Linked DNA regions of Homo sapiens. The protein of the gene in region 2 interacts with the protein of the main gene of each other region in a biochemical or structural test. Each region holds a gene or a part of one and is shown on either strand. Other genes may lie near its edges. The genes, in order: OTUB1, UBE4B, CDKN2A and UBE2D3.

What was found.
Region 1: of the proteins of UBE4B (region 2) and OTUB1, one has a biochemical effect on the other in vitro, tested with the Homo sapiens proteins (one study listed by BioGRID).
Region 3: the proteins of UBE4B (region 2) and CDKN2A form a complex in vitro, tested with the Homo sapiens proteins (one study listed by BioGRID).
Region 4: the proteins of UBE4B (region 2) and UBE2D3 form a complex in vitro, tested with the Homo sapiens proteins (5 studies listed by BioGRID and IntAct, with this or other methods).

Annotation. Positions count from the first base shown.
Region 1 is NC_000011.10:63,989,438-63,996,460, reverse strand, and holds part of OTUB1 (ubiquitin thioesterase OTUB1), read right to left. Parts: intron 1-7,023. UniProt on the Homo sapiens protein: Hydrolase that can specifically remove 'Lys-48'-linked conjugated ubiquitin from proteins and plays an important regulatory role at the level of protein turnover by preventing degradation.
Region 2 is NC_000001.11:10,027,979-10,035,959, reverse strand, and holds the start of UBE4B (ubiquitin conjugation factor E4 B), read right to left. Parts: upstream 3,003-7,981; 5' UTR 2,290-3,002; coding exon 2,266-2,289; intron 1-2,265. UniProt on the Homo sapiens protein: Ubiquitin-protein ligase that probably functions as an E3 ligase in conjunction with specific E1 and E2 ligases. May also function as an E4 ligase mediating the assembly of polyubiquitin chains on substrates ubiquitinated by another E3 ubiquitin ligase.
Region 3 is NC_000009.12:21,971,846-21,978,782, forward strand, and holds the start of CDKN2A (cyclin-dependent kinase inhibitor 2A), read right to left. Parts: upstream 3,013-6,937; 5' UTR 2,983-3,012; coding exon 2,833-2,982; coding exon of another isoform or gene 2,632-2,832; exon of another isoform or gene 2,559-2,631; intron 1-2,558. UniProt on the Homo sapiens protein: Acts as a negative regulator of the proliferation of normal cells by interacting strongly with CDK4 and CDK6. This inhibits their ability to interact with cyclins D and to phosphorylate the retinoblastoma protein.
Region 4 is NC_000004.12:102,796,529-102,803,551, forward strand, and holds part of UBE2D3 (ubiquitin-conjugating enzyme E2 D3), read right to left. Parts: intron 6,111-7,023; coding exon 6,033-6,110; intron 5,032-6,032; coding exon 4,926-5,031; intron 3,048-4,925; exon of another isoform or gene 2,973-3,047; coding exon 2,879-2,972; intron 2,450-2,878; coding exon of another isoform or gene 2,401-2,449; exon of another isoform or gene 2,400-2,400; intron 933-2,399; coding exon 887-932; 3' UTR 1-886. UniProt on the Homo sapiens protein: Accepts ubiquitin from the E1 complex and catalyzes its covalent attachment to other proteins. In vitro catalyzes 'Lys-11'-, as well as 'Lys-48'-linked polyubiquitination.

The DNA.
Region 1 (7,023 bases), on a different chromosome or scaffold from region 2:
CCAGCAAAGGTCACACTCCAAAGGTGGCAACTGAGCTCCCAGCAGCCACCTGCCACCCTGGGTCCCTGAAACAGGCTGCTGAATGTGGCAATGGGAGCGGCCCACTGCCCAGAGTCCTCCCAAAAGACGGCAGGAAGCTGGGCACTTAAGGACAAACTAGTTGCATGGGTCACTAAAGTTCTGCGGGGCCTACAGGACTGTACAACAACAGGTGAGTGAATGTCCTTGAGCAATGCGTTTCCTCCAGTCTTTCAGCCCAAGAGAACTTCAGGGCAAGCAAGTCAGGGCCAGGGTGGAGTGCTGGCCTCCACGCCTCAACCAGGTGGCTGGGGCCCTCTGCACAGCCCAGCTCAGCCCCGCTCCCGCCACACTGAGAAGAGTTCCCCCACCTCTAAGCCTTGCCCGCAGCCCTCCTGGGGCTAGAAACAGCCTCCCTCCTCTACTTGTTTTTTTGAGACAGAGTTTTGCTCTTGTTGCCCAGGCTGGAGTGCAGTGGCGCGATCTCGGCTCACTGCAACCTACACCTCCCGGGTTCAAACGATTCCCCTGCCTCAGCCTCCCAAGTAGCTGGGATTACAGGTGCCCACCCACCACGCACACTTCACCTGGCAAGCACACTTCACTCCCCTGGCCTGGGCACCCTCCCCTCTCCCCTACCCATCTTGCTCCTACCCCCAGCTGATGACCTTGTCTTTTTTCCTCAGCCCCCACCAGCACATCTGCCTTTGGCCTCCTCCCACAATCCTCAGAGGATCTGTTCCAGCTGCCACCTAAGCTGCCTCTCCACTCCACACTAGCCCACCCCCACCCTCAGGCTCAAGCACATCATTCCAAGCTGGGCGCCATGGCTCACACCTATAATCCCAACATTTTGGGAGGCCAAGGTGGGAGGACGCTTAAGCCTAGGAGTTCGAGACCAGCCTGGGCAACACAGTGAGACCCCCGTCTCTCTAAAAAAAATAAGTGGCTGGGCGCGATGGCTCACGCTTGTAATCGCAGCACTTTGGGAGGCTGAGGTGGTTGGATCACCTGAGGTCGGGAGTTCGAGACCAGCATGACCAACATGGCGAAACTCCATCTCTACTGAAAATATAAAATTAGCTCGGCATGGTGGTGCATGCCTGTAATCCCAGCTACTCGGGAGGCTGAAGCAGGAGAATCGCTTGAACCCGGGAAGCAGAGGTTGCAGTGAGCCGAGATTGCGCCATCGCACTCCAGCCTGGGCAACAGAGCAAAACTCCATCTTGAAAAATAAGCAAGTGAGCTGCACATGGTGGTGCATCCTGTGGTCCCAGCCACTCGAGAGGCTGAGGTCGGAGGACTGTGTGGGCCCAGGAGGTCGAGGCTACAGTGAGCTGTGATGGCACCACTACACTCTAGCGTGGGTGACAGAGTGCGTGAGACCCTATCTCAAAAAAAAAAGACATCATCCTAGGAAGTACCCCCATCATCAATTTTTCCCACCCTACTGGTTTAGACCCAACAGCATATACACATTCAGCTACTTCTTTAAAAGGAAGGGAATCCTGGACTTTACGTTTCTGTCTGGCTACCCTTCAATTTCTCTGCTTTCTTTACAGCAAAACTCCTCATGAAGCTGTCCGTGCTGCCTCCACCTCTTTTCTCCCTCGGGAGGCTTTTGCTCTAGCCAAGGTCAGCTGAACGCCCTCAATCAGAGGGGGCAAACCCAGCGCCCCACCCCCACTGGCCCCTTAGCAGAACTGAGGCCACTGGCTGTGGCCCTGCCTAGATGCCTCCTTCCCTGGGCTGGCGCCCCCACCCTCTCCTTGTCTTCCTCCTGCCTCCAAGGCCACTCCTCATCTCTCTAAGCTCTGAGGGTCAGGGATGCCACCAAACCATACAGCACCCTTCGAGACATGGTGTGTCACCTGCAAGAAAACAGTCACTGAGGCTGGGTGTGGTGGCTCACGCCTATAATCCCAGCACTTTGGGAGGCTGAGGCAGGCAGATATCGAGGTCAAGAGATCAAGACCATCCTGGCCAACATGGTGAAACCCCGTCTCTACTAAAAATACAAAAATTAACTGGGCGTGGTGGCACACACCTGTAGTTCCAGCTACTCTGGAGGCTGAGGCAAGAGAATCACTTGAACCCAGGAGGTGGAGATTGCAGTGAGCCGAGATCGCTCCACTGCACTCCAGCCTGGGCAACAAAGGGAGACTCCGTTTCAAAAAAGGAAAAAGGAAAACAGTCACTGCACACTTAGCCACTGTGCCTGCCATGTGACCACGGGCATGAGGGCTGTCTCCCATGTGCCTACCCCGCCCTGCTCAGGCCTGGGACAGCTTCCACTTTTCTTTTTTTTTTCTTTTCTGAGACAGGGCTTTCTATGTCACCTGGGCTGGAGTGCAGTGGCAAGATCACGGCTCACTGCAGCATCAACCTACCAGGCTCAAGCAATTCTCCCACCTCAGATTTCAGAGTAGCTGGAACTACAGGTGCACACCGCCACACCCATTTAATTGTTGTATTTTTTGTAGAGACGGGATTTCACCATATTGCCCAGGCTGGTCTCGAACTCCTGGGCTCATGTGATCTGCCTGCCACGGCCTCCCAAAGTGCCGCACCCGGCCAGCTTCCTCTTTGAAACTACACTCACTCTCATGGCCAGGTACAGTGGCTCACACCTGTAATCCCAGTGTTTTGGGAGGCCAAGGGGGGAGGATCAAGTTGAAGGCTAGCCTGGGCAACACAACAAGACCTCATCTCTACAAAAATGTAAATTATACTTGCTCTCTTGACGACATCAGTCTCAAGCAATTTTTTTTTTTTTTTTTTGAGACAGTCTCGCTCTGTCGTCCAGGCTGGAGTGCAGTAGCGCGATCTCGGTTCACTGCAACCTCCGCCTTCCGGGTTCAAGCAATTCTCCTGTCTCAGCCTCCTGAGTAGCTGGGACTACAGGCGCGCGCCACTATGCCCGGCTAATTTTTTTGTATTTTTAGTAGAGATGGGGTTTCACCATGTTGGCCAGGCTGGTTTTGAACTCCTGCCCTCAAGTGATCCACCCACCTTGGCCTCCCAAAGTGCTAGGATTACAGGCATGAGCCATTGCCCCTAGCCAAAGTCTCAAGGATTTAAATAGCCCCAAGTGTGAATCTCAACTCTCAACTCCAATTACGATCCTCCTATCTACCAGCCTCACCACACCTCCTCTGAACTGTCCAACAGGCATTTCCACTGAGTGCAGCTGAGATCAACCTCCGAACAACTGCTCCTCCCCGAGGCTGCCCCACCTCAGTCACCCACAGCACCCAAAGCCTTCCAGTCGCTGCCGACTCCATCACCATATCCATCCCTTCAATATGTCTGGTATCCAACTGCTTCTTACTCCTCACCTCTACCACCCGCTGCCCGCCTCCAGCAGATTTTACTGCACAAGTCTCCTGGCAGTGTCCCTGCCTCCCCTTCACCCTCTGGAGTTTATTCTCACCCCAGCAAGAGAATGGCCAGGGTCGGCTTGGCGTGATGGCCCAGGCCTGTAATCCCAGCACTTTGGGAGGCCAAAGTGGGTGGATCATTTGAGGTCAGGAGTTCAAGACCAGCCTAGCCAATATGGTGAAACCCCGCCTCTACTAAAAATACAAAAATTAGCCAGGCATGGTGGTGGGCATCTGTAATCCCAGCACTTTGGGAGGCCAAAGTGGGTGGATCATTTGAGGTCAGGAGTTCAAGACCAGCCTAGCCAATATGGTGAAACCCCACCTCTACTAAAAATACAAAAATTAGCCAGGCATGGTGGCGAGCATCTGTAATCCCAGCTACTCAGGAGGCTGAGGCAGGAGAATTGCTTGAACCCGGGAGGTGGAGGTTGCAGTGAGCTGAGATGGTGCCATTGCACTCCAGTGCACTCCAGCCTGGGTGACAGGGCAACACTCTCTCTCAAAAAAAAAGAAAAGTGACCAGAGTCACCTGCCAGATGCACCCTATCTCCATCTCCCTCAGAGTCCTTTCTCTCGCCACAACACCCCACCCCGCCCCGCCCCGCTCAGTTCCCCAGCCCCAACCCCTCATTCTCCACCAGCCACACTGGCCTCCATGCTGGCCTCAAACCATCCAGGTGCCCTCTCGCCTCGGGCCTGGGTGGGCACTGCTCTCGGACGCCTGTGACTCGCTCCCCGGTCTTTTTCTGTTCATTACTCAAATACCACCTCATCAGCAAGGCCTTCACCAAGCCCTGTTTAAAATGGCAAATGCTCCCACTCCCAATCCCCTCTTTTTTTTTTTTGAGGTGGAGTTTTGCTCTGGTCACTCAGGCTGGAGTGCAGTGGCACAATCTCGGCTCACCGCAACCTCCACTTCCCAGGTTCAAGAGATTCTGCTGCCTCAGCCTAAGTAGCTGGGATTACAGGGATGCGCCACCACACCCGGCTAATTTTGTATTTTTAGTAGAGACGAGGTTTCACCATGTTAGTCATGCTGGTCTCGAACTCCTGACCTCAGGTGATCCACCTGCCTCAGCCTCCCAGTGTGCTGGGATTACAGGCGTGAGCCACCACGCCCGGCCCCGATCCCCTTTTCATTTTTCTCCACAGCACTCACCGCCTTCTGATACCCCACATGTCCCAGAGCCCTCTTTGGCTTATCATGTCTTTCCACCCTGAACTGTAAGTTTTGTGAGGGCAGGACTTTGTCTGCATGGCTCTATCTTCAGTACCTAGAACAGCGCCTGGACCACAGTCCGTTCTCAATAAACGTTAAATGAGTAGCACACCAGGACCACAAAGAACCCAAATCACCACTGCTACTGTAGCAGCCACCATGGCCATTGTGAGCACACTCTCTGTGCCAGGGATTTGGCACAGGGCGAATAAACGTCATCCTAATTGATCCTCACAAGAGCCCATTTAGAGAGAGAGGAGCTCTCTCTGCTTGGGCTCTGCTGCCACAGCTGTCTCTGCCCAGGGAGAAAAGGTGGGCTCAGGCACAGCATACAGAATGCGGGTGCTGGGGGCACAGAGAGGCCTTTTAGACAGCATGCTCTGGACATCCAAATGTTTGATGACTCCGTGGGAAGAACCTGGGGCCCAGCCTGTCCTGTCCACTTTACCAGGGTGGTCTAGCATGAGCGGCAGGCCTTGGCATGGGGGGTCCCACTGGAGGACACTGACATAAGAGGAATGAATGAATGAAGCTCACCCCCTGTATGGGGAGAGGAGCAGCTTTGTAACCCGCTGCTTACAACCGCCCGTAACATCTCCTTCAACCCTCACAATTGCCCTGTGAGGCAGACAATGTCCCCGCCCAGAGAGAACAGGGGATCCAAGAGCTTCAGGGTGTTGCCCGAGATCACACAGCTCAAAGTGGTGAGGCCAGGACTGGAACCCAGGCCCATCAGGCTCCACAGCCAGTGCCTTCATCTCTCCACAGGCACCCTGAGGAAATCTAGCTCCCTGAGGAGGGGGCCTCAGTAGATCACAGTGCACAGATCTCACACAGCTGGATCTGGCCTGCAGGTGTGTTTGGCCCACACATTTAAAATTTGAATTAGCTGCCAACTGTTAGAAGTCAGGAGCTGTGGTTACCTCTGGCTTCTCTTGGAAAAACAGATCTGGAGACAATGGTATGGACACTCCCATTTCCCCCAGGGGCCTCTGCTCCCTATTAGTGTCTGGCTGATACTGAGCTGTGCTGCCCTCCTTGTTCACCATCTGACTTCCTGGCCACCTTCAATCACCTGGGTTACCTACCTGGCCACAGAGGCCTCCCCTACCAGTAGAGGACTCTAAGCATCTGTCATCTTCCAGGGGAAGAGAAACATTTACTAAACACCTACACTGAGCCTACCAGATACTGTTTCCACACACCCATTGTCACATTTATTTATTTATTTATTTATTTATTTTTTTATTTTTTTAAGAGACAGGTCTCACTGTCACCCAGGCTGGAGTGCAGTGGTACAATCATGGCTCAACTTCTTGGGCTCAAGTGATCCTCCAACCGCAGCCTCTTGAGTAGCTGGGACTATAGACATGTGCTACCACACCCAGTAATTTTTTGATTTGGAGAGACAAGGTCTCACTATGTTGCCTGGGTTGGTCTTGAACTCCTGGGCTCAAGCGATCCTCTGGCCTCAGCCTCCCAAAGTGCTAGGATTCCAGGCTTGAGCCACCATGCCTGGCCCCATTTCACATGTCATCCTCCCAGCTCACAGACCTAGAAAGTGGGTGGTGAAGTTTGCCTCCGTTTGAGTGATGCAGCAGGGCCCTTTGAGGAAATCTGTGGCCCCTTGACCCCACTGCTGCCTGCCTCTCCACAAAGATCCAGGAGGCAAGCTGTGGGAAACAGCCCTCTGGCAACCCTCCTACCCCACTGAGCACCAGCCTGGTCAGCCCCCGTATGGGCACCGAGATCATCAGCTCCTGCCCAGCCTGCACCTCCCTCAATCTCACAATCGCCCTATGGGAAGATGCTTTTTTTTTTTTTTTGAGACGGAGTCTCACTCTGTCGCCCAGGCTGGAGTGCAGTAGCGCGATCTCGGCTCACTGCAACCTCCGCCTCCCGGGTTCACACCATTCTCCTGCCTCAGCCTCTCCGAGTAGCTGGGACTACAGGTGCCCACCACCACGCCTGGCTAATTTTTTTGTATTTTTAGTAGAGACGGGGTTTCACCGTGGTCTCGATCTCCTGACCTCGTGATCCGCCCGCCTCAGCCTGCCAAAGTGCTGGGATTACAAGTGTAAGCCACCGCGCCAGGCCTTTTTTTTTTTTTTTTTTGAGACGGAGTCTTACTCCGTCGCTCAGGCTAGAGTACAGTGCGGGATCTTGCCTCACTGCAACCTCCGCCTCCCAGATGCAAGCAATTCTCCTGCCTCAGCCTTCCCAATAGCTGGAACTACACGCGCGCACCACCACTCCCAGCTAATTTTTGTATTTTTAGTACAGATGGGGTTTCGCCATGTTGACCAGGCTGGTCTCGAACTCCTGACCTCAGGTGATCTGCCCGCCTCAACCTCCCAAAGTGCTGGGATTACAGGCGTGAGCCACCGTGCCCGGCCAGAAGAT
Region 2 (7,981 bases):
ATCCTGGGCTAACACGGTGAAACCCCGTCTCTACTAAAAACACAAAAAATTAGCCGGGCGTGGTGGCGGGCGCCTGTAGTCCCAGCTACTCGGGAGGCTGAGGCAGGAGAATGGCGTGAACCCGGGAAGCGGAGCTTTGCAGTGAGCTGAGATCGCGCCACTGCACTCTAGCCTGGGCAACAGAGCGAGGCTCCGTCTCAAAAAAAATAAAATAAAATAAATAAAAAATAAAAAAAAATAAAAAAACTATCTCTGGCCGGTCACGGTGGCTCACGCCTGTAATCCCAGCACTTTGGGAGGCCGAGGCGGGCAGATCACAAGGTCAGGAAATCGAGACCATCCTGGCTAACACAGTGAAACCCCGTCTCTACTAAAAACACAAAAAAATACAAAAAACTAGCCGGGAGTGGTGGCGGGCGCTTGTAGTCCCAGCTACTCCGGAGTCTGAGGCAGGAGAATGGCGTGAACCCGGGAGGCAGAGCTTGCAGTGAGCTGAGATAGCGCCACTGCACTCCAGCCTGGGCGACAGAGCGAGACTCCGCCTCAAAAAAAAAAAAAAAAAAAAAAAAACAGTATCTCTGCCTTAAGAGAAATTACTCACTAGAATTAACATTAATGAAAAACGGGGGAGGTAGAGAAACTTTTAAAAAACCACATAAAACAGGCCAGGCGCGGTGGCTCACGCCTGTAATCCCAGCACTTTGGGAGGCTGAGGCGGGTGCATCACGAGGTCAAGAGATGGAGACCATCCTGGCCAACATGGTGAAACCCCATCTCTACTAAAAATACAAAAAATAGCCGGGCGTGGTAGCGGGCGCCTGTAGTCCCAGCTACTCAGGGGGCTGAGGCAGGAGAATGGTGTGAACCCGGGAGGCGGAGCTTGCAGTGAGACGAGATCGCGCCACTGCACTGCAGCCTGGGCGACAGAGCAAGACTCCGTCTCAAAAAAACAAACAAACAAAAAAAAACCCACATAAAATAAAGCGATTCTAAGGAGATTTCCTACCGAATGAAAGAAACTGTGTAATATTCTCTTCACTTAAGATTACATTTCTGCTGTATTCGAAAAAAACAAAGTAACGCCGAATGGGCAGTCCTGATTTTCCAAACCAAGTATCCAAGTATCACAATCAACAAAATCATTTGCTTCCTTTCCTACCTGACCCTTAACACACCACTGCGTGTCCTATCCCAGGAGAATTTCAGTCCCTAAGTAAACACACTAAGTACTCTGTAGCTAAAACTGGAGCATGGAAGTCTTGTAGTACAATCAACTTGATGGATGACTGCTTTCCTAATACTGTAGGGAAGTTTACATGATGAACCAGTGAAGAAATGTGGAGGTAGGCTAAAGAGGGTATGGCCAGTAGGGGTCCTGAAAGGGAAGCTCCTAATTTGCAAAAAGGAAGAGAAAAGGCAGTAGAATCATAGGAAATTCCTTGTACCCTAATTGCCACTGCTTTTTGGTTGTTTTTTTTTTTACAACAACCTAATTTATTAAACAATCTTTAAAACATCAAGAAGTAGATCTGTATAACTCCTTTAAGAAATGAGAACAGGAGAGAGTTTAGAAAGTCATTTGCTTCCACTTGCTTCCCGTTCAGTCTCTGCTACAGCAAAACACAAGTTTGAAAGATTCAAGAAGTAGGAAAAGATAGAATGTAACAGAAGAATGCCAGAAGTCATTAGTGGTCTATTAAGTACCAGAATATAACTGGAATTCTCTAAACTGTGGAGAAGATACATATTTTGTTAAATATCAAAGAATCTGTCTGTAAACCACCCCTCAAGCAAAAATATATGTTTAATCAAGCTTATACAGTGCAATAACCACACATATCTGGAATTTCAAATGCTTTCTTTAAAAATATTCACCCACCATACATTCTCATTCCATCCAAAATTGTTCTTTAAATTCCTGAAGACACAGACACACACACACTTTAACTTCATGTAAATCTCGCCCTTCTTGTTCGCATACCCTGAAGAAAAGAATAAACACCTCAAGATGCTCTCTCCTCTTGTTCATACCCTAAAAGAACACTCGGAAAGAAGCAAATGGAGTTCAGAATGAAGAAAGAAGGCAACAGAATAAAGGAGAACAAAACCAGAGACCCTATCGGGGAGTCACGTTATTCTTGGAAAATATCATCTCCGTTCCTTCTCCAAGCCCAAAGGCCAGACAGCACTGGCGCAATACCATCCCTGTCCAAAGCGCTAACGAGTTGCCAACTAATCCCTCAAGGTGTCCCCCAACCTCCTCACCTCATCAGCGCTCAGCTCCTCCATCGCTTTCCTCTTAATGGTGAAAGGCGTTAAGGAGAGATCCTTCTGTTCTCGAGACCACGGCGGGAGGAAGGAGAGTGGAAGGTGTCTATCAGGCTGTCTGGTCCCCCGAATGGGGGAGGTTTCAGAATTGCATAGTCAGAGGTTAAAAAATAAGAACACGAGAGGCACTAAACTGCCTTGGCTTCGGTCACTCCAGTCGCCCCACAGACTACTACAGCCGCTTGTTCCCTGAGCAGCCTCCTTTGGCCGCCACTGCTGCTGCTACAGGGTTGTCTTAAGGCGCCACTTATTACCCTCTGCTTCCCAGGTTACCCAGCTAGGCAGCGCGGTCTCCAGTTCGTCTCGTGCCCCGAGCCTGCTGTTTCTTCGTGATAGTGGCGCGGTAGCTGCGTTCCTACAGCAGATCCTGCTCTCCTTCCTACCCTTTGCTCCTGGCGGGAACTGGTCGACTGCAGAGTGGATACCCCGAGGTAAGGCGACCCCACAGCCGTCCTGGCAGAGCCCAGCACTGTAAGGGAAGCCCCTCCCCTCCCAAAGCAGGCCGGCCACGCCCCGCCTCCACGCCGGAGCCCGGGTAGGGGGGAGGGGGAGGATGGGATGCGCGTAGCTCTCGCTGGAAGAGTAAATCCTCCTACCCCTCCACCCCTACTCTTTCCCCCTCGCCCCACCAAGTATTATTCATCAAAACAACAGGGCGGCCATCTTTGAAAGGGATCACGTGACCCCCGTCAGGGAGGCGGGGCTTCTGGCGCCGGGACGTGGCAGCCAATAGGCCGCGGGCGCCGCGCCGCCGAGTTCCTCTCGCCTGCGTCCTCTCCCCGCCTCCGTCCCACCCCGTCCCGCGCAGCCGCGCCGGACGTGGGGAGGGGCAAAGGGAGGCTGGCGGCTGGGCGGGGCGTTGCCACGGCGACCGCGCTGGGGCTGCGGGCGCGGCGGGCCTGAGCCAGGTAGGCTGGCAAGGGGAGGGACGACTCCCAGACTCGCGTCGGGGAAGATCCACCAGAAGGTGGCGCTGGCCCGCGGCCCGGGGGCCCGCCGCGCCTCCGTTGTTCCCAATCGCCTGCTTTTCTGTGACTTGGGGGCCTAGAAACACCTCATCGCTCCCACTGGACTGTGCGCGCCCGCCGCCTAAGCGAGGGAAAAGAAAACGGAAAACGTCTCCTTGACCCCGGGAGCGTGATCTACCGTATTGAGCGCTCATTTTCTGAAACATCTGCCACACACTCTTCCACCTCCTCCAGGAAAGCCCAGTTGGAAGAAAACTCGAACACAAGAACTCCCATTCATTTTATTTTACCTTGGCCTTTTAGAGATACTTCCTGGGTTTTTTTTTTTTTAAGTGTGTTCAAAAAGTATTGGTAAAATTTGAAAGTATAAATGGATGAGAGACCCAAATCACTGAATTGTACACAGCAAATGCAAGGAAGACGTTTGGAGTCAGTGGGGGAAAACCATCCTCCGGTGCACAAGAATACAAATATTTGGCCGGGCGCGGTGGCTCACGCCTGTAATCCCAGCACTTTGGGAGGCCGAGGCGGGCGGATCACGAGGTCAGGAGATCGAGACCATCCTGGCTAACACGGTGAAACCCCGTCTCTACTAAAAAATACAAAAAATCAGCCAGATGTGGCGGCGGGCGCCTGTAGTCCCGGCTACTCGGGAGGCTGAGGCAGGAGAATGGCGTGAACCCGGGAGGCGGAGCTTGCAGTGAGCCGAGATCGCGCCACTGCACTCCAGCCTGGGCGACAGAGCGCGACTCCATCTCAAAAAATATATATATATGTATGTATATATATATTTATAAAATATAAATCTAAGTTGAGCGATCAAAGTAACAGTACCATGAAATTCCAGATTTTGCCGCTGACGAAGACTATAAGTGGATTGGATGGCTCACTAAGCCATAAAGACTGCATTCCAGAATTAAGAGTTACAATGTATTTGCTACATGCTTAAAATAGGAACCTGACTACTAGATATGTAAGGAATTTGTGAGTAAAAATATGTAAGGAATTTGTGAGTAAAAATAAATCACTGCTGGCTTTGCATATTATCTGCTCTCCAGGAAAGGAATTCTGTGTAAGCCAGAACTTGAACCCCTGGTGACATTGATGTTAAAAGTTTACTTTTTTTAACCTCATTATTGCCATCTAATTTACATACCATACAATTCACCCAATTAAGGTGTACAGTGGTTTTATTATGTTCACAGTTCAGTCATCCTCACTGTCCAATTTCAGAACATTTTCATCATCCCAAAAAGAAACCCTCAAAGCCATTAACAGTCACTCCCGGGCTGGGCGCAGTGGCTCACGCCTGTAATCCCAGCCCTTTGGGAGGCCAAGGCGGGTGGATCAAGAGGTCCGGAGTTTAAGACCAGCCTGGCCAAGATGGTGAAATACAAAATACAAAAATTAGAAGGGCGTGGTGGCGGGCACCTGTAATCCCAGCTACTTGGGAGTCTGAGGCAAAGAATTGCTTGAACCCGGGAGGCAGAAGTTGCAAGGAGCCGAGATCGTGCCACTGCACTCCAGCCTGGGCAACAGAGCGAGACTCCGTCACAAAAAAAAAAGACTCCTGCAGGATAACTACCTTCTGTCTTGGTGAATTTGCCTATTCTGGACATTTCACATCAGTGGAGCAATACACCGTGTGGCCTTTGGGGTTTGGCTTCCTTCACTTAGCATATGTTTTCAAGGTTCACGCATATTGTAGCATATATCTGTACTTCATTTCTTTAATGCCAAATGTATCACTGTATTGCTGTAGCGCATTTTGTTTATCAATTCATAGTGATATTTGGGTTGTTTCCACCTTTTGACAATTATGAGTAATGCTGCTATAAACATTCATGTACAAGTGTTTGTTTGGACATATGTTTTTATTTTTATTCCTTTTAGGCATATACCTAGGAGAGGAATTGCAGGATTACATGTTTGACTTTTTGAGAAACTGTCAAACTGTTTTCCAAAGCAGCTGCACTGCCACCAGCAATGTGTGAGGGTTCTAACTTCTCTACATCTCTACCAACAATGGTTTTTGTCTGTCTTTTTTATTGTAGCCACACCAGTAGATGTGAAATGGTATCTCTTTGTGGTTTTGTTTTTCATTTTCCTAGGAGCTAATGATGTTGAACATCTGCTTAGGTTTATCTTCTTTGGACAAATACCTATTCATTCATATTCTCTGTTCTTTTTTTTTTTTTTTTTTTTTTTTGAGATGGAGTCTTGCTCTGTCACCAGGCTGGAGTGCAGTGGCGCGATCTCAGCTCACTGCAACCTCCACCTCCCAGGTTCAAGTGATTCTCCTGCCTCAGCCTCCCAAGTAGCTGGGCCTACAGGCGCCCACCAGCATGCCTGGCTAATTTTTGTATTCTTAGTAGAGATGAGATTTCACCACGTTGGCCAGGATGCTCTCGTGGATCTCTTGACCTCGTAATCCGCCCACCTCCGCCTCCCAAAATGCTGGGGTTACAGGCATGAGCCACTGTGCCCGGCTTTTTCTCTTTCTTTTCTTTTTTCTTTTTTTTAAGACAGAATCTTGCTCTGTCACCCAGGCTGGAGTGCACTGACACAATCTCGGCTCACCGCAACCTCTGCCTCCTGGGTTCAAGCGCTTCTCCTGCCTCAGCCTCCCGAGTAGCTGGGATTACAAGCATGGGCCACCACGCCCGGCTAATTTTTGTATTTTTAGTAGAGACAGGGTTTTGCCATGTTAGCCAGGCTGATCTCAAACTCCTGACCTCAAGTGATCCACCCACATCGGCCTCCCAAAGTGCTGGAATTACAGGCGTGAGCCACTGCACCTGGCCCTCTGTTTTTTTGTGTGTGTTTTTGTTTTTTTGTTTTGTTTTTCTTTTTCCCTCTGTTCATTTTTAATTGGGTTGTCTTCTTTTTTTTTTCTTTTTTTTTATTTATTTTTTTTATTGATCATTCTTGGGTGTTTCTTGCAGAGGGGGATTTGGCAGGGTCATAGGACAATAGTGGAGGGAAGGTCAGCAGATAAACAAGTGAACAAAGGTCTCTGGTTTTCCTAGGCAGAGGACCCTGCAGCCCTCCGCAGTGTTTGTGTCCCTGGGTACTTGAGATTAGGGAGTGGTGATGACTGTTAATGAGCATGCTGCCTTCAAGCATCTGTTTAACAAAGCACATCTTGCACCGCTCTTAATCCATTTAACCCTGAGTGGACACAGCACATGTTTCAGAGAGCACAGGGTTGGGGGCAAGGTCACAGATCAACAGGATCCCAAGGCAGAAGAATTTTTCTTAGTACAGAACAAAATGAAAAGTCTCCCATGTCTACTTCCTTCTACACAGGCACGGCAACCATCCGATTTCTCAATCCTTTCCCCACCTTTCCCCACTTTCTATTCCACAAAACCGCCAGTGTCATCATGGTCCGTTCTCAATGAGCTGCTGGGTTCACCTCCCAGACGGGGTGGTGGCCAGGCAGAGGGGCGCCTCACTTCCCAGTAGGGGCGGCCGGGCAGAGGCACCCCTCACCTCCCTCCCGGGTGGGGTGGCTGCCGGGCGGAGACGCTCCTCACTTCCCAGACGGGGTGGCTGCCGGGTGGAGGGGTTCCTCACTTCTCAGACGGGGCGGTTGCCAGGCAGAGGGTCTCCTCACTTCTCAGACGGGGCGGCCGGGCAGAGACGCTCCTCACCTCCCAGACAGGGTTGCGGCCGGGCAGAGGCGCTCCTCACATTCCAGACGGGGCGGCGGGGCAGAGGCGCTCCCCACATCTCAGACGATGGGTGGCCGGGCAGAGACGCTCCTCACTTCCTAGATGGGATGGCGGCCGGGCAGAGACGCTCCTCACTTTCCAGACTGGGCAGCCAGGCAGAGGGGCTCCTCACATCCCAGACGATGGTCGGCCAGGCAGAGACGCTCCTCACTTCCCAGACGGGGTGGTGGCCGGGCAGAGGCTGCAATCTCGGCACTTTGGGAGGCCAAGGCAGGCGGCTGGGAGGTGGAGGTTGTAGCGAGCCGAGATCACGCCACTGCACTCCAGCCTGGGCACCATTGAGCACTGAGTGAACGAGGCTCCGTCTGCAATCCCGGCACCTCAGGAGGCCGAGGCTGGCGGATCACTCGCGGTTAGGAGCTGGAGACCAGCCCGGCCAACACAGCGAAACCCCGTCTCCACCAAAAAAATACAAAAACCAGTCAGGCGTGGCAGCACTCAGCAGGCTGAGGCAGGAGAATCAGGCAGGGAGGTTGCAGTGAGCCGAGATGGCAGCAGTACAGTCCAGCTTCAGCTTGGCATCAGAGGGAGACCATGGAAAGAGAGGGAGAGGGAGGGGGAGGGGGAGGGGGAGGGGGAGGGGTTATTTGTCTTATTGTTGAGTTATAAGAGTTCTTTTGTTTGTTTTTATGTTGTTTATATTTATACGATTCCCAAACTATTTTTCTTTTATTATTATTTTTTGAGTTGTAAAAGTTATTTACATATTCTGGATACTAGTCCTTTATCAGATATATGATTTGCAAATATTTCTCCCATTCTGTGGATGTCTTTTCACTTTCTTGATTGTATAATTTGCAGCACAAAAACAAAACAAAACAAAAATACAACAAAAAAAAACTTTTAATTTGGGCCTGATATAGTGGTTCACACCTGTAATTCCAGCACTTTGGGAGGCCGAGGTGAGGGGATCGCCTGAGGCCAGCACCAGCCTGGGCAACATAGCGA
Region 3 (6,937 bases), on a different chromosome or scaffold from region 2:
CCTATCCATCATCTCAAATATTTGACATTTTTGTCAAATGAGAGCATTTGGGATTTACTATTTAGCTATATTCATCATGCTATGAAACACATCTCAAAAAAAACAATCAAACTTATTCCTCCCATCTTAACTGAGGCTTTATATCTTGATTACCATCTCCCCATTCCTCCCACCCCCCAGCTCTAGTAACCACCATTCTACTCTTTACTGCTAAGAATGTAATTGTTTTATATTTCACAGATAAGTGAGAACATGTGATATTTGTCTTTCTGTGTTTGGCTTATTTCATTTAGCATAATGCTCTCCAATTCCAAAACTTCAATTTCTTCAAGTATAAAATAAGAAGGCTAGTTTAATTAACCCTAAAATTCCTTCCTGTGGTAGGCTGAATAATGCCCCCCCACCCCCAATGTCTATGTCCTAATCCTCAAAAACTTTTAATACATTAACTTATGTGGCAAAAGAGGCTTTGCAGATGTGATTTAATTAATGGTCTTGAGGGAGATTATCCAGAATTTTCAGGGTGGGCCCAACATAACCCCAAGTGTTTTTATTAGAGGGTCACAGTCAGAGAGAAGATACAAGAATGGAAGCACAGGCCACAGAGAAAATACAGAGACCATGAGCCAAGGAATTTGATGGTCACTAGAAGCTGGAAAAGACAAGGAAACAGATTGCCCCTTAGAGTTTCCAAAAGGAATGAAACCTTGTGGACCCATTTTTGACTTCTGATCTCTAGAACTGTAAAATAATAATTTTGTGTTTGTTTTAGCTAACACATTTGTGATAATTTGTAACAGCAGCAGTAGGAAACTAAAACACTTCCCAGGTTTATGATTTGAGAGTTCATTAAACAAGAGATGGTCACCTCTTTGGTTCCTAAATCATCTTGGAAACAAAGCCATTTCCAGAGAGGAATTTTAAAATACTGTCTGCAGTCATAGCAACCTTAAAATTTGAGTGCTGCATGGTGGAAGTAGACAATTTATTTTAGGATAACTGTTATTTGTTATATTAGTTTGAGGATGGTGGTGTTAAAGAGGAGTTACTTATTTTTAGGTACATTTCATACTAAACACAAATTGCATAATTTGCCTAAATCAAGGAATTATACTAAATTATATTATGGTTATTAAATCCTGTCCTGAGAAAGTGAAACTGACTCAGTTTTCAAAGAGACAAAGAGAAAGTATAAGCAAACCAAATTGCAGCTACAAAAAGAAAGACAAAATGTTGCAGTATATTTATTGTTTTGTGTATTCAATGAAGTCCTTCGTCTTGGTCATAAAACTAGCCTTAAAGGTTTTTCTTATATTTCATAGTATGAAAAATCTAAAAAGTAACCCATATGTAAATATTTAAATCATGATAGAAATCCAAAGCAAAAAGAAAATGAATCAATTGAATTAAAATGTGTAGGATGCTTAAACCCATTTGATAATATATCCATTTGATAATATACTAATATGAATTTAGTACTTTAAAATGTTATATAAATAAATGTTCCTATATTAAACACCAATGTAGTTAGGATTCTAAGCCAACATCATTTCCCCTTTTCTACATGTTCTTCTCCCGTCTCCATTAAAAATTGTCAAAACTATCCACTTTTCTTTTTCCTTTTTGTTTTTAAACAAATAAGGTCTCTTCTAAGATATTGTAGGACTACAAAGCCAAACTCCCGGGTTCAAGCTGTTGGCAAAATTTTAGAGATGCTAAGTTACCCATGTATTAATTACTTTTAAATCCTCCCCTAACTCCCTCACAAAACAGGAGTAGGGAGAGGAGAAACACCTCTGTTCAAAAATGAGGAATTGAAAACTCTTATCACAAATAAACTATATCAAGTAAGCTAAAGATAGTAAAAGAGCAAAAATGTTAGCAGATATTCCCAAAATGGTAACTACATATTACCTCTGGAATGATCACATGAATGTGGCTCATTATTTCCTAAGTTCCTACAGCAAACATATATTTATTTGCCCTACTCAGTTAAAAATAAACACAATATGTAGTTGCTTCTGAATAATTTTTCTCTCTCTCTTTCTCTCTTTCTTTCTTTCGACAAAGTCTCACTCTGTCACCCAGGCTGGAGTGAAGTGGCTCCATCTCGCTGTTCACTACAACCTCAGCCTCCCGGGTTCAAGCGATTCTCCTGCCTCAACCTCCCGAGTAGCTGGGATTACAGGCGCCTGCCACCACCCCCGGCTACTTTTTGTATTTTTAGTAGAGGCGAGGTTTCACCTGTTGGCCAGGCTGGTCTCGAACTCCCGACCTCAGGTGATTCCCCCCGCCTTGATCTCCCAAAGTGAAGGGATTACAAGGCGTGAGGCACCGCGCCCGGCCGCTTCTGAATAATTTCGATCAAAATTTATATTCGATATTTATTCCAACATACACCACAGATTTCCACTGATAATCCCTCCTAGTAAGAAAGATAAGCTCCATCCAGGTATCTGTGAATTGGAGGCTAAGTAGTCCCAGCACATCTTACATTTCTTTAAGACTCCCTTTTTATCCCAAACGTTCGTAAATTTTGTATCTGATAAAGAGCATACTTCCATCTAATACAAATATGTTCCCCCCTTCAGATCTTCTCAGCATTCGAGAGATCTGTACGCGCGTGGCTCCTCATTCCTCTTCCTTGGCTTCCCAAGCCCCCAGGGCGTCGCCAGGAGGAGGTCTGTGATTACAAACCCCTTCTGAAAACTCCCCAGGAAGCCTCCCCTTTTTCCGGAGAATCGAAGCGCTACCTGATTCCAATTCCCCTGCAAACTTCGTCCTCCAGAGTCGCCCGCCATCCCCTGCTCCCGCTGCAGACCCTCTACCCACCTGGATCGGCCTCCGACCGTAACTATTCGGTGCGTTGGGCAGCGCCCCCGCCTCCAGCAGCGCCCGCACCTCCTCTACCCGACCCCGGGCCGCGGCCGTGGCCAGCCAGTCAGCCGAAGGCTCCATGCTGCTCCCCGCCGCCGGCTCCATGCTGCTCCCCGCCGCCCGCTGCCTGCTCTCCCCCTCTCCGCAGCCGCCGAGCGCACGCGGTCCGCCCCACCCTCTGGTGACCAGCCAGCCCCTCCTCTTTCTTCCTCCGGTGCTGGCGGAAGAGCCCCCTCCGACCCTGTCCCTCAAATCCTCTGGAGGGACCGCGGTATCTTTCCAGGCAAGGGGACGCCGTGAGCGAGTGCTCGGAGGAGGTGCTATTAACTCCGAGCACTTAGCGAATGTGGCACCCCTGAAGTCGCCCCAGGTTGGGTCTCCCCCGGGGGCACCAGCCGGAAGCAGCCCTCGCCAGAGCCAGCGTTGGCAAGGAAGGAGGACTGGGCTCCTCCCCACCTGCCCCCCACACCGCCCTCCGGCCTCCCTGCTCCCAGCCGCGCTCCCCCGCCTGCCAGCAAAGGCGTGTTTGAGTGCGTTCACTCTGTTAAAAAGAAATCCGCCCCCGCCCCGTTTCCTTCCTCCGCGATACAACCTTCCTAACTGCCAAATTGAATCGGGGTGTTTGGTGTCATAGGGAAAGTATGGCTTCTTCTTTTAATCATAAGAAAAAGCAAAACTATTCTTTCCTAGTTGTGAGAGCCCCACCGAGAATCGAAATCACCTGTACGACTAGAAAGTGTCCCCCTACCCCCTCAACCCTTGATTTTCAGGAGCGCGGGGTTCACTAAGTCAGAAACCCTAGTTCAAAGGATTCCTTTTGGAGAGTCGGACTGCTCTCTCCTTCCCCTCCCCTTCCCCTCCTGCGTGTAAAACGGCTGTCTGGGGCAAGGGTTTCTCAGACGTGTACATTGCCTGGTATAAGAGCAGACTCTGAAAAGATGAGGTTTATTTAATACGGACGGGGGAGAATTCTGCCTGTAGGCAGATAGGAAAATGGGGAGGGAGTCATTGGAAGGACGGACTCCATTCTCAAAGTCATAATTCCTAGACCAGAAAAAGTGCTCAGTGTTCTAGAAGCAGAGTTGCACAGTGATCCAAAGACCAGCTTCAAATACTGTCCTGTCTCCTTCACACTTCTCACATTTCTCTTTCCTACTGAAAATACCTTGCATTTTTCGTAATTATAAAGGGGGAAGGGAATATGAGTGCCCCCTGCTTTATAGGGGTTGTTGTGAGTTTAAATGATGTATTAATACATATAAGCCTTAAGAACAGTGCCACACATCCTAAGCTAATACCTGTTAGCTCTTGAATTATCCGCTTTGAGGACTGGCTTGCAATCTTGTTTTGAGGCATAGAAAGAAAATGCTTTGGAGCAGGACGCGGTGGCTCACACCTGTAATCCCAGCACTTTGGGAAGCCGAGGCGGGCAGATCACCTGAGGTCAGGAGTTCGAGGCCAGCTTGGCCAAAATGGTGACACCCCGTCTCTACTAAAAATACAAAAATTAGCTGGCCATGGTGGCGCACGTGTGTAATTCCAGCTACTCAGGAGGCTGAGGCAGGAGAATCGCTTGAACCCGGGAGGCAGAGGTTGCAGTAAGCCGAGATCGCGCCACCACCCTCCAGCCTGGGTGACAGAATGAGACTCCGACTCAAAAAAAAAAAAAAAAATGCTTTGGATAGAATTATCACTATTACATAAAAGGAAAGTCCGGATGCGGTGGCTCACGTCTATAATCCCAGCATTCTGGGAGGCCGAGACAGGCGGATCACCTGAGGCCAGGAGTTCGAGACAAGCCTGACCAACATGGCGAAACCCTGTCTCTACTAAAAAATACAAAATTAGCGGGGCTTGGTGGCGCATGCCTGTAATCCCAGCTACTCGGAGGCTGATGTAGGAGAATCGCTTGAACCCAGGAGAAGGCGGAGGTTGCAGTGAGCCGAGATCGCGCCATTGCACTCCAGCCTGGGAGACAAGAGCGAAACTTGGTCTCAAGAAAAAAAGAAAGAAAGAAAGAAAGAAAGACCAAGAAGAACTTACTCCCTGAAAAGATTATGGGCACCCTCCACCACCCTCACTTACAAAGAAAAGTTAAACAGCACTAAAGAGTATAACAAGCGCAAGGAGGTAAAAGTTCTAATTTTTCCTGTGACTACTACTTTTTAAGCTTATCAAAAACATGTACTACGTTTTAAAAAATGGATTGCTCAGACTTTGCTGATGCCTTAAGCACATGCTTAATCTGCCTACTGGATAATCCAGCTCTGTTTAAAAGTTATATTTCAATCCCTGGTTGACTTAAACCTTGTAGACCCAGTATATCTTGTACTTTTAGTGTCTGCTTGATTTTAAAACATGTAGTTTTTAAAATGAAGCCAATGAAAACAATTTGGGATGTCAAGTATGTTATTAAAATCTACAATGCATTACTGTACCATTTATATTTTCCTCGGGGTACCTCTCAATTAGCTGTGTAGCAATGATAGGGAAAATTCAAACTATCGATAAATAAAATTATTTTAGTTTAGTTTAAGATATTTTATGATGGAGGAGGAAGAAAGTGGTTGCCAGGATGGGAGGGAGGGAACACATTTCCATCACTAATACAATGGTTCTTTCTTTTTGTTTGTTTGTTTTGTGTGTTTTTTTGAGATGGAGTTTCGCTCTGTTGCCCAGGCTGGAGTGAAATGGCACCGCACGATCTCTCTCGGTTCACTGCAACCTCCGCCTCCCGGGTTCGAGCAATTCTCCTGCCTCAGCCTCCCGAGTAGCTGGGATTACAGGCACATGCTGCCATACCCAGCTAATTTTTGTATTATTAGTAGAGACGGGGTTTCACTATGTTGGCTAGGCTTGTCTCGAACTCCTGACCTCAGGTGATCCACCCACCTTAGCCTCCCAAAGTGCTGGGATTACAGGCATGAGCCATCGTGCCCGGCCTACAGTGGTTCTTAATGGGGGTGGGAGAGTGGGAAGAGTAGGCTCCTTCAAGAGTCTGTTGAAATAAATACCTTCTTCTCAAAAAAGAAAGTAGGTAATGATTTTTTTTAAAAAAGATGTGTTCACTTGCACATGTATTTCTAGATAAAACTTTCAGTGAATTCAGGGATTTCTCTGAAACTCTACCATGGATTCCTACATCAAGAACTCTTTCAGCTCTTGTGAAAAATATATATAGCTATTGGTGAAGAAGATGGGAGATGCAACCATATAAAAACAACATTTGGATGCATTATAAACAGGTGTAAAAGTTGACTGCTTTGGAAATACCAAGAACAAGTTTTAGATATGTATATCTCATATCTTGCAGTAGAGCTCTGGAAGGATTATGGCATCCTTGGGTGGGGCCATTTTGCTCTAGAAATTGAAGTCCATTATCCATTATAAATCTTATGTAGGGGGGAGGGGGGAGGGATAGCATTAGGAGATATACCTAATGCTAAATGATGAGTTGATGGGTGCAGCACACCAACATGGCACATGTATACATATGTAACAAACCTGCACATTGTGCACATGTACTCTAAAACTTAAAGTATAAATAATAATAAAATTAAAAAAATATTATGTAAATAATTAATAATAGTGGGAAAACTTTCCTAGTTTTTCTGTTAAAGAGCCCATTATACTCCCAGTTTACTCATACATATCGACCTGAGGTGCAAAATCCTAGAAGAATGAAAATATAAAGTCCTGGATCTCTGTGCTCCTTATGCCAGTCTCAGATTTCCTATGTGCAAAATGGGATTATAATATATTTCATGTGGCCATAAAATATGATAATGTATGTCCAAAAGCTTTTAATGTAAAAATTTACTACATTTACTAAATTTACTAAAGTTTGTTGGTTATTGTTATTATTATTCTCACACTTACTTTTCCTCTTTCCTGAGAATGCCATTCTTTTTTTAGATTTGCACTGCCTTTGCAGTTTTGAAAATTCTACACGTGAAATTTAAACCTGTCTTAATTCTGATCAGTCTTATAACAAAAAAAGACTACCACCTGTTCATTCATTCAACAAGCTCAGAAACTAAGGGCAGACATGGGGTGGGGG
Region 4 (7,023 bases), on a different chromosome or scaffold from region 2:
AAACAGCTTTGCATTTACAAAAGATTGTTTCCCATACTGATTAATCCAGGCAGCTAACTCATTGGTTTATGCAACTTTATTGAAGAAAAATAAATCAATTACTAGCAGAGCTATTAGTTGATCACTCATCCATTGACAACTTGCATCATTTATTCAGTGCTATATTAAACAGTGTATTGGAAGATAGATTAACTAATAGCTCCAAGCCTCCTAACAATTTAAATGAAAATTACAAAATGTTTGAGACCCTATTTTGGAATACAAAGGGTGTTTGACTTCCAATTTCCATTCTCTGTAGAACAAGAACAGGTCATTCCTTTATTGACATGCATAAAATACATCACATTTTCTGTTCTGCTGATGCTATAAATTCAATACCAATTCTCCAGCCACATCAGTTATGAGCATAAAGCATATCATGTAACCTCAAATCTCTAACAGTGGAAGGCTTAAACAAGAATGGATGCTGCTAGAATAATGCTGTATCCTTTGATGTGACAACTGAGCATCCATCTCCCTCCCCCTCAGATGATTTCTTCAGCATGTTAGAGCAGTGAGGAATGGTTTTAGTCTCATAACCAAGTTAGAGTGAAGACATTGGCCACATAATACACATGCTCCATTTTTTTTTTTAAAAATTCTGAGTCTTGGGCAACTGTTCTCTTGTAACTACTTTACAGTTTCTAAAAGCAGTTATTGTCCAAAGCTGGAAGAACTTAAGTCTTCTCAGATGAGCATGTGAATGAATGGAGGGAGGTAAACAAAAAATAAAATTAAAAAAGATGAGGTCTGATAGGGGAGCAGCCGGATAAGAAAATCAAAAAAGGAACAGTAATTTAAAGTTTATTCCAGCTATAATGCAGGTTATTCTGACTTTAAGGTAGCATCACATGGCATACTTCTGAGTCCATTCCCGAGATATTCTGTTGTACCTGTAAATAAAGATGTTATTTTTAAAAGTTAAAATAAAGAATTCCTAATACTTTAAATGGAAGGGAAAGATTTCCATTTTATCATCTCCAGACTCATCATGAAGTCATCTCTAATGACTATGATTAGAATAAAAGCCAACAAGGGAGAAATAGCACTGGTACTCAAAGCAATGTGGGAAATGAGAGCCTGATGCTCTGAAAGTAGTATTTTAAAAACAACTAAGAAAGCAGCACTGAAAATTGGGAGGCTAACAAAAATCAAAAGACCCTTTCTTTCTCTACCACCGAGCTCATGCTCTAATTTTAACGTGAAGAAATTTTTACAGTTCATTATGGACAAATGTTAAAATAGTATACACATTCTATCTATCCACAGAAATTTCCACCAAGGCCAGAACTAGGCTTTTACTAGAACAATTTTATCTGAATCCTAGAGTTTGGGAAATTACTTGGTCCTGGATATTACAAGAAAAAATGGCTTTGGGACTTAGGTAGAGGCAGAAGGGGAAGATGACACTGGGCAGAATGACAAAGGGCAGTAATTTTCAAAAGGGGTGTGTGTGTGAGTGGTTGTGTTCATCAGAATCACGTGTTACTTTTAATAAGTGTGGTAACTGAGGCTAATAAGCACCACTGAGACCTGTTGAGTACAACAAGGGCATCTTCGTTTAAAAAGATCAACAGGTAATTCACACACAAGCAAGGTTATTACTCAGGAAGACTACTAACATTGATAAATACTATCAGCTTCCCCCTGGATTATACTCATGCCATAGACTACTTACAACAACAAAAAACAGTGATAACCTTAAGAAATGAATATATATATATATATATGCACAGGAGAATTTTTATATTGTTTAAATATTAACTAGCTTTATTTCAAACCAAGAACCAAATATGGTCCAACAACTTTCCTAAACTTTTTAAAAAGTTCTTTCTACCAATTCATTGTCATCTCCTAAGGATACTCTCTCAAAAAGCCAGCACTTTAAAACAAAGGCTTTATTTAGCATACAGGGAGCCACAAAGTACAGCTGACGCTAATGCATGCTTGTCAGTAATGAACATTTAGTTTAGATGCTTAGGCTTAAAAGTGTTTTTCCCTTACATTACTATCTCCCGGCAAAATTTGAACTAAACCACCACATTCTGTATAGGATTGGTACAAAGTCTCAAGCTAAAATTTAAACACCATGATAGTTTGAAAAAAAAAAAAGATACTACATAAATTCCCATTTCTTACTAGTGCTATTGTAACTGCTTTGCCATGCAGTACTTTCAAGCAATAACGGCTACCAGATATTTACTTTCACGTTAAACAGAGACCAAGCAGTTAAATGTACAGTTTTCAGAAGACTGCCATATTTGTTACCTTTTGTTAGTTAATACAGTGCCTTAACGCATGCAGCACTCAAGTGCTGGCAGTACCATAATAAGCGCACCATAGAGTGCAGATCCTCTTACCCTACAACATAGCGTATTTCTCTGTCCACTCTCTTGCTAACCTATTGTACCTAATTGAACAAGTACACTTAGCATTAATTATAACATATGAAAGTTATAATGGTTAAGTTGAACATAAATATAATTCAAATATTTGAGAAATTTAGACCAAATTTTTACAATAGTACTAACATTTTTGGAAAAACATGCTTGGGGTAAAGAAAAATTTGCTTTCTTCCCCAAAAGTTGAGAATAAAGTGATACTGTTTAACACGCTAGGAAAAAAAAAACAACAATAAAACATTTTAGAGGGGAGCATTCACTGTCACATAAGCTAAAGCCTAGTTAAGTTTTTTTAAATAACCACATTTCAATAGCTTTCTCCATATTTTAACTATTATCTTACTAAATATCAAGTCTTCTTGGCACTGTCACAAGCAAAGTATAAGCCTAACTCATTAAGTAAAACCACTTTTATAATAACTTTTTAACATACTTACTTATCTCTGTCTGTTTTATAGATCCGTGCAATCTCTGGCACTAGGGGGTCATCTGGGTTTGGATCACATAGCAGTGAACAAATGGATAAAAGAACTGCAAGAAAACAAAAACATCTGTTACCCAGTTTCAGGAGTTTGGATAAATAAATTTTTCTAAACCGTGTATTACAAAACTCAATCCTCAAAAGACTTTTATTAGTTTGTATCTTTATCTCAATGAGACACAGTTTTACAGAGATTTTGTTTCACAGAAGACAAGCTCCTGGTAAGTAAGAAGTGCTAAAAACAGGGTTTTGTGGCATGAAATTCACTGCAGACTAGCCATAAAAATAGTTTCTAAGATAGGCAACTGATGCCATATTAATATATATATTTTAAATAGGCATAAATGATATTAGAACTTGAGTTTCTTGGTACTCAGTGGCTGGGGGGGGGGGGACTTTAGCAAGAATATGCAGGTAACACTCATGCCATATTCATAGCCATTAGGCATGATGAAAAATCCATTCTTAGCCGTTGTCTTGGCAATTTCTGAGAAAAACCCTCAAGTGCTCCACTAAATGTCTCCTTGAACTTGTAAGCAAGAAACCATATTCCCAAGAGTACTAGTTAAATACAATGCCAAAATCTCTTTAGTACTAAGTGAGTCATCAGCTCTAGTTTTTACCTTAACCAGTTCAACATACTGATGTATAAGATGTCAAGCATTAAGGAACATAGATCGCATTCACTTTGAGTGCCTGCTATGTGCCAGTCACCATATATGGTGGTGCTGTTATAAAATGTTAAGATATAAATGCTTGAAATGGTTCTGACCGATTTTTTTTTAAAAAAAGCAATAGTATAAAAAAGACAACACTGTCACATATTTATTGACTACAGCAAATTTAATTTCAAACCCCAAATACAGCAGAATATAAAATTACCTAATATAGGAGACTTGGCTATACAATAACTCACAGAAAAAAGGTAGCTTCAGTTGTGACTGCTAGTTTAATAAGTTAGCAAAGTATGGCTGCCAAAAAAGTAAGTTGCTTTAACGACAAAACAATACCAATTCAATCTGCCCTTACAAAAACAGTTTTCAGTGTTACTGTACACTCCCAGCAGTAGTAGAAAAACTTGGAAACTGATATTTAGGTATGTAGCATGATTTGAAAAGAAATTAGAAAGCATCCAAGAAGGTGAAAAACAGGTGTAAAATTTTAAAAACACTCGAATTATGGCAGCATCTGCCTAAGTTGTTTCTTTTTCTCCCTTAAGTGATTCTACTCAATAAAGTTTGGGAAATGCTACTGCTACAGTCTCTCTCCATGAGATTCAAGTGCAGTATATACACATATGAAACTTTTATACAATGCCTTGCCTTTTGAAAAAGCTTTTTTGTACTTACTGAACTCATAAAATCAAAAAACAATTAATGGTGAAATAGTGTTAATTATTACAACTTCACCTGGGATATTCATGCGGAGACCGGAAAACTTGTTACATATAACGTAACAGATACCTATTAAGAGACCAGAATTGATCTACAGATCTTTCGAAGATTATATAATTTTAGACTGTCATTAGGTAGAAACAACCTATCATGGTTACATAAAACATGACTGAAGATTTGTCTAAAAATTAACCCAGGAAAGCAAAATCAGAATTTTCCTAGAGTGGAAACCTCAGGATTCAAAAGCTCTATTAAGTTTAGGTATATCATACCATTCTTGGTAAAAAGGCCGCAAGTTAGTGTGAGATGTCCAAGTGGTTTGGGATTGAAAAATACAGAAGTCTATTAAAATAAATTTTGCTATTATAAGATGAGATGAAGGTAACTCATTAGGCAAATAATGCCTACTCACCACAATTTGAATTTTAACAACTTCTCACAAAGTATCTTTAATCAACACCACTAAAAGAACAAAAATTATAAAAGTAACTTTATTGCTTCCCCATCTCTTACCAAAAAGCTGCCATAATAAAAATACTCAGATAAGTAGATCTAAGAATGAAGCTTTATTAGACAATGAGAACAGCTTATTTCACTAGAAATATTTACCTTTAGAAATTGTTAAAGCAGGCGACCACTGTGATCTTAGAATATCGAGACAAATGCTGCCATTACTGTTAATATTTGGATGATAAATTCTTGTTGTAAATGCAACCTAAAACAAAAACTTTTAAGTATTTTATTCAAATAAAAACAAACATCTTTTAAAGCAAAACTTAAAATAATCAAGCCACAATGTTAAAAATGTCATCTATTAGCATAGAAGTTCTAAATATTATAGAAACTGATTTTTACAATCTGACCACAACCCCCTGCCTCCTCTTTTTACAACAGAAACCTAAACTTTTGGATAAAAATTTCATTACTCATATGATGTAAAGTTCTAAAGGTTACTGTGGCCCTACCATATCATGAATCAAAGGGCAATTTAAAGGTATTTAACACATTCATTTATAAAAGCCCTAACTTTTGGATGTAACCAAAATTTGTAGACCATCTCATTTAAAGTTTCATTAAGTTACACAGGTACACCTGAGTCTGCATTTCCACCGTACATAAAACATAAACTTGAATCACAAAAATGGAAACCATCACATTGCACCTATAACATTACTAGAGATTGTTATAGTGACATGTTTATGACCTTTGTATATTACCTTTTCTAGTTATTCATACAGGTTGAATTTATGTTAATGACTGAAAAGTGAAGGATAATATGCTTTTAATACCTATAAACCAGTGCACTAAGCAACTCTAAGTTTTCACAAATTTACACTTACGTATACAAAACTATAAGCATAATAAGCATATGCTGTAACAATACGTGCAAATATAAATTGAAGTTGGACATTTGATGCTTACAAGACAACAAAAGCCCAAAAATCAGAATCTGTGTAACAATAATACAGATGAGGGCGGAAGCTTCCACATGGTCTGAATCTTGCAACATTAAAGAAAAGGCAAACCTTATTCCTATTTACAAAGCTCAAACTGAGGTCTAGCTCTTTAAACCAAAGGTTAAGAGTCAGCATCTATACATGAGTGCAATTCAACATATATATACAGCCTACACAGAACCCTATCTTCCAAGAATGCTCTATTCCTTTGAAATAAAGCATAAATCTATACTAACAGATTTTGAGGGAAAATACTTGCCTTAGGTGGTTTGAAGGGGTAGTCTGTAGGAAAATGAATTGTCAAAAAGAATACACCGCCTTGATATGGGCTGTCATTCTGTAAAAAGAAAAGTATGCTTAACTCAAATTTAAAATATTATTGCTAAATATTCCGTAACATTTGTTTCCAAGCATTTCTCTAATAATGAACCCAAATCACCTATTTACACTGCAATAAATAATCTATTCCATGAAAATTCAGTCTATAGTAATAGAAAAAAACTTAAAACTTATACAGTAATAAACCCTAATTTATCTAGTCATTTTACACGTCACCAAAATGTTTTTTTAAAAAGTTATCCAGAAACGCAAGTATTCTAGATCTCAATTCTCAAAAGTACAACACAGCAATAAAGCCTACATAATCATGTTTCAGAATAATCTGTAAACAAAATTTTACACATGTAGATTATTTCTTCCAATAGCCAGATGTGTACAAATGGCTTCACAACAGTCCATTCTGCCCACTGGCAAACCAAATGTTAGCTATTCCAGGTAACACACACACACCACCTTCAAGAGGAGAACAGAGAAAAGCCTAAGCTTCTCATTTTAATCAATACCAGAAAATACATGCATTGCCCCTATTTTATGCATGAGAAAAATGAGGCTTAAAGAACTTAGTCTAGTGTACAAATGGTAAATGATAGAACCAAGATTCAAACACAAGTCTTTTGAAGACCACTTAATGATCAAAGATACTGACCTACTCAGGAATTTAAAGTTAAAATGTGGAATGCCTAACTGCTTCTGGGTATGCAAAGAACCAATCCGAAGACATGTTTTACAACTTACATGAACTGGGTTTTTACCAACACTGACTCCCCTCTATTAGAAAGGCTTTGTATATACAGCTATATATGAGCCTTTCACTATGCCCATTCTGGATGTCAGGCACATAAAAAACAGGCCTGACACTAACACAGCTCATCTAATTCCTACCCTTCTGTAAAATAAATAAACATTAATTC